Linked DNA regions of Homo sapiens: region 1 is linked to region 2. Evidence: fine-mapped expression QTL. A gene starts in region 2. The other region holds a variant in brackets. All regions are shown on one strand. Distances are from middle to middle.

Region 1 (5,381 bases), 340 kb after region 2:
GGGCTGAAGTTCTCCCGGCAGTGCCTGGGGTGACAGGTCTCCCCTGGCCCAGGGCTCCGGGCTCCATCCTCCAGAGGCAAAGGAGACAGTAAGCCTGCCATCTCGGGTCCTTTCATGGTCACCAAAAATGTTGTGGGGAACTGAGGACCAGAGAGACTGATATGGAGAACAGGAGGATTGTTTATTTTAAGGTACGCACCGGCTCAGTGGATTCACATCCAAAAAACTAAACATTGAACAAAGACAGAACGTGGTTTTTATAAGCAGATTTACAGAAGCAAAACAAAAGCAGTTAATCATACAGTGACAGGTCACATAATCTATAGCATAACATAAGTTGTGGCCTTGCATAGCTGGTGAGCTTGTAGCTGCATTGAAAGAAAAACAAGAACTGGTTAAATACAGACATTTGTAATACATAATCATGCTTAAGAAGCCAAGGAAAGGAGTAACAGTAAAAAAATTTGTCTTTTTCTTTTTCTTTTTTTTTTTCCTTTAACCTTGCTCTGGATGGGGGTGGTGGTGTTTGGAGCCTATTCCTTTGGCCTTGGCTTTCTGGACAGTGTTATCTTATAACTGTCCTTGAAGTGAGCTTGCTAGGCAGAGGAAAACTTGTTCTTTTCTTTCTTTTTTTCTTTTTTTTTGATACAGAGTCTCACTCTGTCGCCCAGGCTGGAATGCAGTGGCGTGATCTCGGCTCACTGCAACTTCCGCCTCCTGGGTTCAAGCAATTCTCTGCCTCAGCCTCCCGAGTAGCTGGGATTACAGGCGCCTGCCACCATGCCCAGCTCATTTTTTGTATTTTTAGTAGAGATGGGGTTTCACCATCTTGGCCAGGCTGGTCTTGAACTCCTGACCTTGTGATCCACCACCTCAGCCTCCCAAAGTGCTGGGATTACAGGCATGAGCCACCGTGCCCGGCCTTGTTCTTTTATTTTTAACCCTTGCCTTCCCTGTTACTTAGAGTGAATGAATGCATATTTATTTTTAAATTTCTGCCTCAACTTGAGGTCAGGAGTTCGAGACTGGCCTGCCTAATATGATGAAACCCTATCTTTACTAAAAATACAAAAATTAGCTGCGTGTGGTAGCACATGCCTGTAGTCCTAGCTACTCGGGAGGCTGAGGCAGAAGCATCATGTGAACCAAGGAGGTGAAGGTTGCAGTGAGCCAAGATCATGCCACTCACTGCACTCCAGTCTGGGCGACAGAGCTAGACTCGTCTCAAAAAAAAAAAAAAAATTGTTATCATTCCGGTGTTTTGTGTGCACAATAGAATTTTAATGTAATCAGATTATACTGCGTGGATAGTCTTTGTGTTTTTTATTTACCATTGTATTGTAAGCATTTTTATAGCACTTAGTATTCTTTGAAAATCACATTTGATCTGGGTGTAGTGGCTCACACCTGTAATCTCAGCACTTTGAGAGGCTGAGGTGGGTGGATCGTTTGAGGGCAGGAGTTCCAGACCAGCCTGGCCACCATGGTGAAAGTCCATCTCTACTAAAAATACAGAAAAATTAGCCGGGCGTGGTGGCACGTGTCTGTAGTCCCAGCTACTTAGGATGTTGAGGCATGAGAATCACTTGAACCTGGGAGGCGGAGGTTGCAGTGAGCCAAGATTGCGCCACTGCACTCCAGCCTGGGTAACAGAGTGAGACTCCGTCTCCAAAAAAAAAAAGAGGAAAAAAGAAAAGAAAATCACATTTGAAAAGAATCTCTAATGTCAATTTTACCTTCTAAATGCCTTTCTAATTGATCTACTTCTCTCCCACCAGCATTGCCATCACCCTGGTTTAGATTTCCATGATCTTACCTGGATTGCTTATTTCTCTTTCCCCTTTCCTTCCCATGTATTTTCCCGTGCTTTGCAGTTGACAGATACCTCTTGGCAGTCTGATGAAACCTTCAACTCCTGAGAATAACATTTTTAAATGCATAGCTAAAGCAAACCAATATAGTTACAAAATATTAATACTTTTTAAAAAAACTATGATATTATATTTGCCTCTTTGTTAACGTATTAAATAGCAAGATCTAATAATCCTTCCAGAAACTTCCATGATTTTAAAGTAGTGATGCAAGGGCCAAAATTATTATTATGAGATTTTTCCAGTATTTATAATCGGAACATATTTTGAGATTTGTATTGGTTTAAAAAGTCAGAGCCTATACTCACAATTGAAGGAAATGCTAAGTTTCATTCAGAGGTTAGTTAAAAAGAAAGATTGTTTTTTCCCCTGATCCAAGTTCATGGACTGCACTGGATTCCATGAACAGACCCTTTGGTATCTGTGGACTCTAGTTTGAAAACCCCTTTGTTCTTGGGACAAACTCCAAATTTTTAATGTAGTCTTCAGGACTTTTTATGATTTAGCCTGGCTACTTTTCCAGCCTGGTTTCCCACATTCTCATTTGGCTTATAGTCTAGCCATACTTGTTTTCTTTTAAGTCTTCAGATGTACCCTGTTCCCTCCTATCTCAGGGCCTGTCTATGCTATTCCCATTGCGTGGAATGCACCTCCAGTCATCCACACACCAAGCTAATGTGTGTTCATTTTTCAGCTCCTAGTTTAAATGTCACTTCCCCAGGGACGCTATCTCTGATCATCCCACATTGCTGGATAGGTCCCCTTTTATTTATTTTGTTTTAATTTTTTAAGACAGAGTCTTGCTGTGTTGCCTAGGCTGTAGTGCAATGACCTGATCATAGCTCACTGTAGCCTCAAATTCCTGGGCCCACGGGATCCTCCCACCCCAGCCGCCTGAGTAGCTGGGATTACAGGCATGTGCCACCATGCCTGGCTAGTTGTTTTTAAAATTTTTTGTAAAGACGTGTGTCTCATTATGTTTCCTAGGCTGGTCTTGAACTCGTGGCCTCAAGTGTTCCTCCCACCTTCATCTCGCAAAGTGCTGGGATTGCAAGCATGAGCCACTGCACCCGGCCAGTTTCCCCTTTTAGATGCTATCATAACACCCCGTGCCTTTCCTTTACAACACTTTTCCCGGTTTATAATT[C/G]TGTTTTATTTATTTATTTTTATTTTTATTTTCTTTTTGAGATGGAGTCTCGCTCTGTCTGCCAGGCTGGAGTGCAGTGGTGCAATCTTGGCATACTGCAACCTCTGCCTCCCGGGTTCAAGCAATTCTCCTTCCTTAACCTCCCTAGTAGCTGGCATTACAGGTGCATGCCACAACGCCCGGTAATTTTTGTATTTTTAGTAGAGGCAGGGTTTCGCCATGTTAGTCAGTTTGGTCTCAAACTCCTAGCCTCAGGTGATCCGCCTGCCTCAGCCTCCCAAAGTGCTGGGATTACAGGCGTGAGCCACCGCACCCACCAGTAATTCTATTTTTTGTAATCCTTTGAGTGTCTGTCTCCCTCACTTAAGTGTGTGCTCCGTGAAGGTAGGGACTATTTTATTTTGATTACTGCTGTATACTTGGCTCTTGTTATAGAGCAGGCCCTCAGTCAATATTTATTACATCAGTGAATGAATACTGATAACTTAATGTTCCTAAATTATTTGACTCCTCTCTTACTTCCATAGGTCTGTCTTTTTTCTCCTCTGAAACATTTTTCCCAGCCTTGCATGGCTAACTTCTACTCCAGCCTCCAGTTTAGTTAAATATGCTTCCCTCCATGTACCATCTCTAAACTTCCATAACAACTGGATATATTTACATAAAATTAAGATTTTTTTTTGTTTTTTATTATTTTTTAAAATTTTCACATACAGTTGGGGTCTCACCATGTCGCCCAGGCTGGTCTCAAACTCCTGGGCTCAAGCAGTCCACTCACTTTGGCCTCCCGTGATGAGACCCTGTCTCTACAAAAAAAAAAAGAGAAAAATTAGCTGAGCATGGTGGTGTATGCCTGTGGTCCCAGCTAATCGAGAGTCTATGAGGCGGGAGGATCGCTTGAGCCTGGGAGGCAGAGGTTGCAGTGAGCCAAGGTTGCGCCACTGCACTCTAGCCTAGGCGACTGTGAGACACTGTCTCAAAAAAAAAAAAAAAAATTCCATTTGGTCAGTTTGGGTTTATTTTCCTTTCCCTCTTCTATAACTTTGTTTATTCTTCCTAAAAATGTTCTGACTACACATTGTAAGCATTTTTGTATTTAAATATCTGGTAGTTCTCTTAAGAGTATGCCTTATTAAATTTAAAAATATCCATTAAAAAATTTTTTTTTTGCCGGTCTCAGTGGCTCACGCCTATAATCCCAGCACTTTGGGGGGCCGACGCAGGTGGATCACAAGGTCAGGAGTTCAAGACCAGCCTGGCCAACAAAGTGAAACTCCGTCTCTACTAAAAATACAAAAAATTAGCTGGGCGTGGTGGCAGGCGCCTGTAATCCCAGCTACTCAGGAGGCTGAGGCAGGAGAATTGCTTGAACCCAGGAGGCAGAGGTTGCAGCAAGCTGAGATCGCTCCACTGCACACCAGCCCAGGCAACAGTGCATGGACTCCATCTCAAAAAGAAAAAAAAAAATGTGGTTACTTAGTAGGTGTATATATTTATGGGGTACATGAGGTATTTTGATACAGACATACAATGTGTAATAATCACATTAGGGTAAATCAGGTATCTTTTTTTATTTTTTTCAGTCAAGGTCTCGCACTGTTGCCTGGGCTCAAGTGCAGTGGCACAATTATAGCTCACTGGAGCATCGAATTCCTGGGCTGAAGGGATCCTCCTGCCTCAGCCTCCTGAGTAACTAGGACCACAGGCACGTGCCACCCTGCCCAGCTAATTTTTGTATTTTTATGTAGAGATGCGGTCACACTATATTTCCTATGCTACTCTTAAAATCCTGGTCTCAAGTGATCCTCCTGCCTCGGGCTCCCGAAGCACTAGGATTACAGGTGTGAGCCACTGTGCCTCAGGCCTTTACAGTATCCACTTTTAAAAATTACATTTGGAAGCTGGGCATAGTGGCACATGCCTGTATTCCCAACTACTCAGGAGGAAGGATCGCATCAGCCCAGGAGTTCAAGGGTATTGTGAGTGATAATTGTGCCTGTGAATAGCCCCTGCACTCCTGCCTGGGCAACATAGCAGGACCCTATGTTTAAAAAAAAAAAAAAAAAAAACGGTTAGTAAATGTTGAATGCCATTTTTCCCATATGGAAGTTCTAGCTGAAACTCACACTTTCCATTTAAGACTTGAGACTGACTTTCTCAGTCCACTGTAAGCATTAATTAATACATTGGTTCTACTCTGCACACTTCTGCTTCTAAAAACAAACTGAACAAGACCTTCCTTTGCCTGTGGTTGCTGCTGATTAGTTTCTATCTTTTCCAGCTTTCATCTGTAACTGATAGCCAGTATTCTCAGGGCTATCAGGAGGCTTGTGCACCCAAATTCCCATTCTCTCATTGTTACC
Region 2 (5,381 bases):
TGCTGATGATCCTCAAACCACACTTTGAGCAATAAGGCTATAGCTATATATTTATGTATATAATTCACATATATGTATATTCTTGTGTGTGTGTGTGACAATTATATTAGCCCCCCGCCTCCATTTTACTGACCATAATATTAAGCAAAAAGAAAAAGCAAGAATTTTATTATTTATTTATTTATTTATTTATTTATTTGAGATAGAGTCTCACTATGTTCCCCAGGCTGGAGTGCAGTTGCATTGATCCTGGCTCACTGCAACCTCTGCCTCTCAGGCTCAAGAGATCCTCCCACCTCAGCCTCCCAAGTAGCTGGGACCACAGGTGGGCACCACCATGCCTGGCAAATTTTTTGTATTTTTGGTAGAGACGGGGTTTCATCATGTTGCTCAGGCTGGTCTCAAACTCCTGAGATAAGCGATTTGCGTTCCTCAGCCTCCCAGACTGTTGGGATTACAGACATGAGCCACAGCACTCGGCAAAGAATTTTAATTTCTACATTTTTTTACCTTTTGGAGGGCCTAAATTCACACACACACATATGACATGTATCCATTCATTTCAGGGGTTAAAACACAGTGGCCTATTATCTCTTACAACTTCATGTGAATCAACAATTATCTCAAGGCTGGACGCAGTGGGTCATGCCTGTAATTCCAGGACTTTGGGAGACCGAGGTGGGCGGATCACTTGAGGCCAGGAGTTCGAGACCAGCATGGCCACCAAGACAAATTCCTGTCTCTACTAAAAATACAAAAATTAGCCAGGCTTGGTGGCACATGCCTGTAATTCCAGCTACTCTGGAGGCTGAGGCGGGAAGATTGTTTGAACCCGGGAGACAGAGGTTACAGTGAGCCAAGATCCCACCACTGCAGTCCAGCCTGGGCAACAGAGTGAGACTCTGTCTCCAAAAAAACCAAACCAAACAAACAAAAAAAAGCCCCACATATTTCAAAAAATTTTATTTTAAGAAAAACAAAAAAACCTACTTTCAATTAAAAAACACAGTGGTTATGTTAATGCATCACCACATTCCTAGAGAAGTATTAAGGCAATGTATGTAAGTAAGTACATATACTCAGGTGCATTGATAATACGATTTATGTATACTTTCAGCAACAACACAAGGGGAGAGAAGATGATTTACTAGCTCTCCTCATAAAGCTACAAACAAAACCACAGATGTAACTCAGGTGGGAGTTTCCTAGTTTATGGCTAACTTTAGCTTATTAACACGACAAATATTATCATTTTCACTGAAAAATTTGACATTTTTTGTTGACTCAGCCAATCCAAGAAGCTTAATTAATATATAGTCCCTGCCCTCAAGAGACTTCCAATATAGTTGGAAGAGACCAGGCAAACACAAAGAAAGCTAACAATGCAATATATACCACAAGGCAGCATATAATTAGTTTTCGAATGAGTGCTAACAGACCTTGAGACCACTGGTTAAAATGTTTATATATCTATATAGATATACATAAATGGTAAATATGTTTTTTCATTTTCAAAAACTTTTTTTCCGTTTTCAAAAACTGTGAACCACCACTAGCAGACACCCTATAACAAGGCCCACTGTTCATTTTTAAATTACACATATAAAATGTTTCATTCAGAAAGCAAACCTGAAGCCCTTCAGCCTCCTCCACACTCACAATTCAAATTATATAGAACCTACGAAGCTGGTTAGAAAGCAGGTAATCTCAGAAAAAAGGGTGGGGGTGACAGCAGAAACAACCAGGGATCCACAAGGTCATACCAAAGGGGTGGTCGGAAAGGAACCTGGGGAAGGGAGAGAAGGCTGGAACGCTTACTTACTTCTTGTTATCAGTGTAGAAGCGTGTTTGGAGCTGAGCCATGGCGAGGAGTACACACGACTTGCCCACGGAAACGTACGGGTTAGCAGACCCACAACACGAAGCTCCTGCCTTTTAAGACTACAAAGAGGCAGCTCAAAATTAGACTGCACAGGTAAGCGAGGAACTGCAGTCTAAGCCTGGACTCTGCCTTCTGCCCTCCGGTCTCCTCTGCAGAAAGCACGAGGTTGCCCTTCTACAGACGCCCAGACCACAAACATCGACTACCTACTCCTAGATTTAGGAGTCATCGATTAGAAAAGGATAGTCGTAAAGGTAGCATGTCCCTTTAATCATTGTTAGAATTCTTCCCATACGTGTGGGCCCGTAATCGATTAGGAAAAAGATCCCACTCAAATCCGCTTTATTAATAAAAAATTTTTTTTCAAGAGGCTGTCCTGAGCCTGGATAGTTCAAACACAGCTCCTAGTTACTACAAGTCTCAGAAAGCATCGCTTCTCAAACGCTGTGACCACCGGGAATTGTAGTCTTTTTTTGCCACGCTGCCCTCAGAGTATCTTATTTGCATTAAATCCTCTAGACTCCAGCCAGATATCAAATTTCCTCTGCCTTCAGCTTTGCTTGACTAACGCCTTGCCAGTTTTTTTTTCTCATACATATTCCCAACCAGAGGCTCACTCGGCAGAGGTTTTTCCTAAATCTCGCCTCTAACTGCGGCTTTTAGAGAGAGGCGAGAGGCGGAAATACAAAGAAAAGAACGGATGAGAGAGGAAACGGTCGACGGTGGCCGATAGTGGTCCTACTGTCGTGGGACTGCTCTGCGCGCTCCCGGTGGGGCGCGCCTGCGCATTATGCTGGTCTCCATGGCGGGGCCTCGGAGCCAAGACGAGGTTGAGTAGACTCGTTTTGAATTTTCTCCCCTCTGCTCCGGCGGACTTCCCATGTCGCCTTGTGGGGCTATCGGCGGCGGCAGGACTGGGGGAGTCAGAGGTCTGGCAGCGCTGTCTGCGCAGACCTACCGGACGCTACCTCCCAACCCCCCGTCTTCCTCCTGCCTCCTCCTCCTCCCGTCACCTCCTGACCCGCCGGAGCTCCGAGCAACTGCCGGCCTCCGCCCCCAGCCGCAGCCGGTCACTGGCGGCGCCTTCCGCGCCAAGCTTGGGGGCCTTTTCGGGGTCCCACATGGCACGGCTTCCGACCCCCGGCCCGGGACGGGGCTCGCAGGCCCCAGAGGGGCAGGCTGGAGAAGGAGGAGGTTAGGTGTCTTCAGGAGGGTTGCTGAGCCCAAGGACGCGCCATCGCCGCGGAGAAGGAGCCGGACCCCTTGGGCGGAGCGCCCAATGTGTGGTCCCTCACGCCGTCCCGCACCTTGCTTTTTAGGGTTCTTTTTCCGCTTTCTGAGCCCTTTTATACCTTACGTTTAGAAGGGGAAAATCATCCTCCCACACCTTCTCCCCGACTTTTTGCCTTTTTTGTCTTGAAGTTACCCAAAGGCCTGTGTATTGTTCTCAATGGTCCCAAGAATTACTCTAATATAGTTGTTTTTCTGAGGGAGGATGGATGGAGATAACTATCCTGATCCCAATGTCACTTTTTAAGGCATTCGCTTCAAGAGACAAGCAGTTTAGAATCAGGCAGAACTGGATTGCAAAATTTATGGGCAGACCGGTATGTGTGCAGGTGAAGACAAAGCTTTCCTTTTTTACGTTGTTTAAAGATGTCCTACTGTAAGGTAGACGCCTAATGTTTAAATGAACGCCTAATATTTAAATAGAGAATGAGAAGAGATTTAAACAATTGGAAGAAAAAATAATTTTTATTAGAGAGCAATGACAATAAAAGTAGGACTCTTTTCAGTTTACTCACCTTTGTAGCTCCGAATCCGGGCCCTGGAACCAGAATTCCTGGGTTCAAATCCTGCCTCTGCTACTTGATTAACCTTTTTGTGCCACACTTTTATCAACTATAAGAATTAACTGCGGCATCGGAAGCACTCAGTATATGTTAATTATTATCATCAAATAGTTACTAATTCCAGTTTAACTAGAAGCTTTGCCAGCGTGAATAGATAAGGGAGAATAGCCACATTGAGTGGAGGAATAAAATTAGAAAACCTCTGTGCTGAAGTCCCAGGAGATCACTTATTAGGCTTGAGCTTGCTAATGGAAGTGGTGATCGTTTAACCATGTGGTTATTGTAGTGGTGAGGATTTACACATTAAATAAGTCTTGGGCATCTGAAGCTTGAAACACTTTCTTAATGAAATCTTGCCGTTGAATCTGTACTTACTGGTAATATGTCATTGGTTAAAATATATTTATAAAATGTATAATTGACCAGCAGGTTAATACATTTTTATCATTAATTTGAAATTTATCAAAATGAGAATATACAGTACCTGACAGTAGAGTTTGATCTTAATTTGATTTGAAAATTATGATCAGGAAAATAACCTGAATATATGCTTAATAATATAAGACTTTCAGTTTGCAAAACAGAAATCCTGACTTGACTAAAATACACTTTTCATTTGACGGAGACCTTTAGTTAAGGAAAGATTAGTTTTAGCATTCAACATAACTAAATACCCAGCATTATGTTTTACGGTTTTTTTCAACAATGATTTATGTGTCGTGTTTGGTGTTGCCTCCAAACAGTACCTAGGATAGCTGATGCTTTTACTTTGAGTCTTTTTCTTTAGTTGGAACATTAATTGCAAGCTTTTGGTTGGTAATCATTTTTTATGGGATGTATTTACTATATGGTCCTCATGGAGACACATTGTTATCTGGAGAACCACAGTTTGGAAAATACATTTCTCTTTATTATAAAGTTTTTTGTTTTATATATATAATGCCACAGTGTGATAGGATACAAAGACTATGCATTAGGGCTTTGGAGTCTTAATTGTTCTTTGTGTTTTTCTTTTTTTCCAATTTGATTATGGATCCAAGCCTAATGCACTCTGTGATCTTAAGCAAGTTTCTTGACAGTTCCAGTTTTCTTATCTACAAACAGAGACAAGAAGATCTACCTCAGAGTCATTGTAAGGATTAAATAAATTTGTAAAGCTCTCAAAGAGCAGCCTAATCCCAGCATTTTGGGTGGCTGAGGCGGGTGGAGCACCTGAGGTCAGGAGTTTGAGACCAGCCTGGCCAACATGGTGAAACCCCGTCTCTGCTAAAAATACAAAAATTGGCCAGGCATGGTGGGGGGTGCCTATAATCCGAGCTACTGGGGAGGCTGAGGCAGGAGAATTGCTTGAACCTGGAAGGTGGAGTTTGCAGTAAGCCAAGATCACGCCACTTCACTCCAGCCTGGGCAAAAAGAGTGAAACTCCATCTCAAAAAAAAAAAACAAACAAAAAATCAGAGCAAAAAGGTAAAAAGTTTGTGCAGAGTAAAACATGGGTAGAAATGGATTGCAGGGAAGCTTATAGTGAGAATAAACCATAAATAAAATTGACATTGTGAACACCAGCCTTAGATTTTTTTTCCCTGAAAATTAAAAAGTGCTTTTTTTTATTTTTTTATTTTTTGAGTTGGAGGGTTTTTTGGTGG

Which allele goes with the higher level. Positions count from the first base shown, and alleles are read on the strand shown. Sizes are in standard deviations (SD) of each study's normalised expression.
As copies of C replace G in region 1, the expression in pancreas of the gene that starts at base 2,662 in region 2 goes up (small effect, 0.38 SD a copy in GTEx).

What was found. PIP is the estimated chance that this variant, and not a neighbour inherited with it, causes the effect. A credible set is the group of variants that fine-mapping cannot tell apart.
Region 1: its variant is the best candidate, but not a certain one, in a credible set for the expression of CARF in pancreas (GTEx, PIP 0.63).

The regions. Positions count from the first base shown.
Region 1 is chr2:203,253,322-203,258,702 of GRCh38, forward strand. The region is part of intron 4 of CYP20A1 (cytochrome P450 family 20 subfamily A member 1); the gene reads left to right. Among named protein-coding and RNA genes, the nearest start is that of CYP20A1, 17 kb to the left of the region's middle. The variant C/G (reference allele first, on the strand shown) is at 3,019.
Region 2 is chr2:202,909,614-202,914,994 of GRCh38, forward strand. It overlaps CARF (calcium responsive transcription factor), which reads left to right and starts at 2,662. Exons shown (of 17, transcript NM_024744.17): 1 at 2,662-3,489. WDR12 (WD repeat domain 12) reads right to left here and starts at 2,060. Exons shown (of 13, transcript NM_018256.4): 1 at 1,823-2,060. The coding sequence starts at 1,863. RefSeq lists enhancers at 2,243-2,392, 2,403-2,552, 2,593-2,792, 2,893-2,942.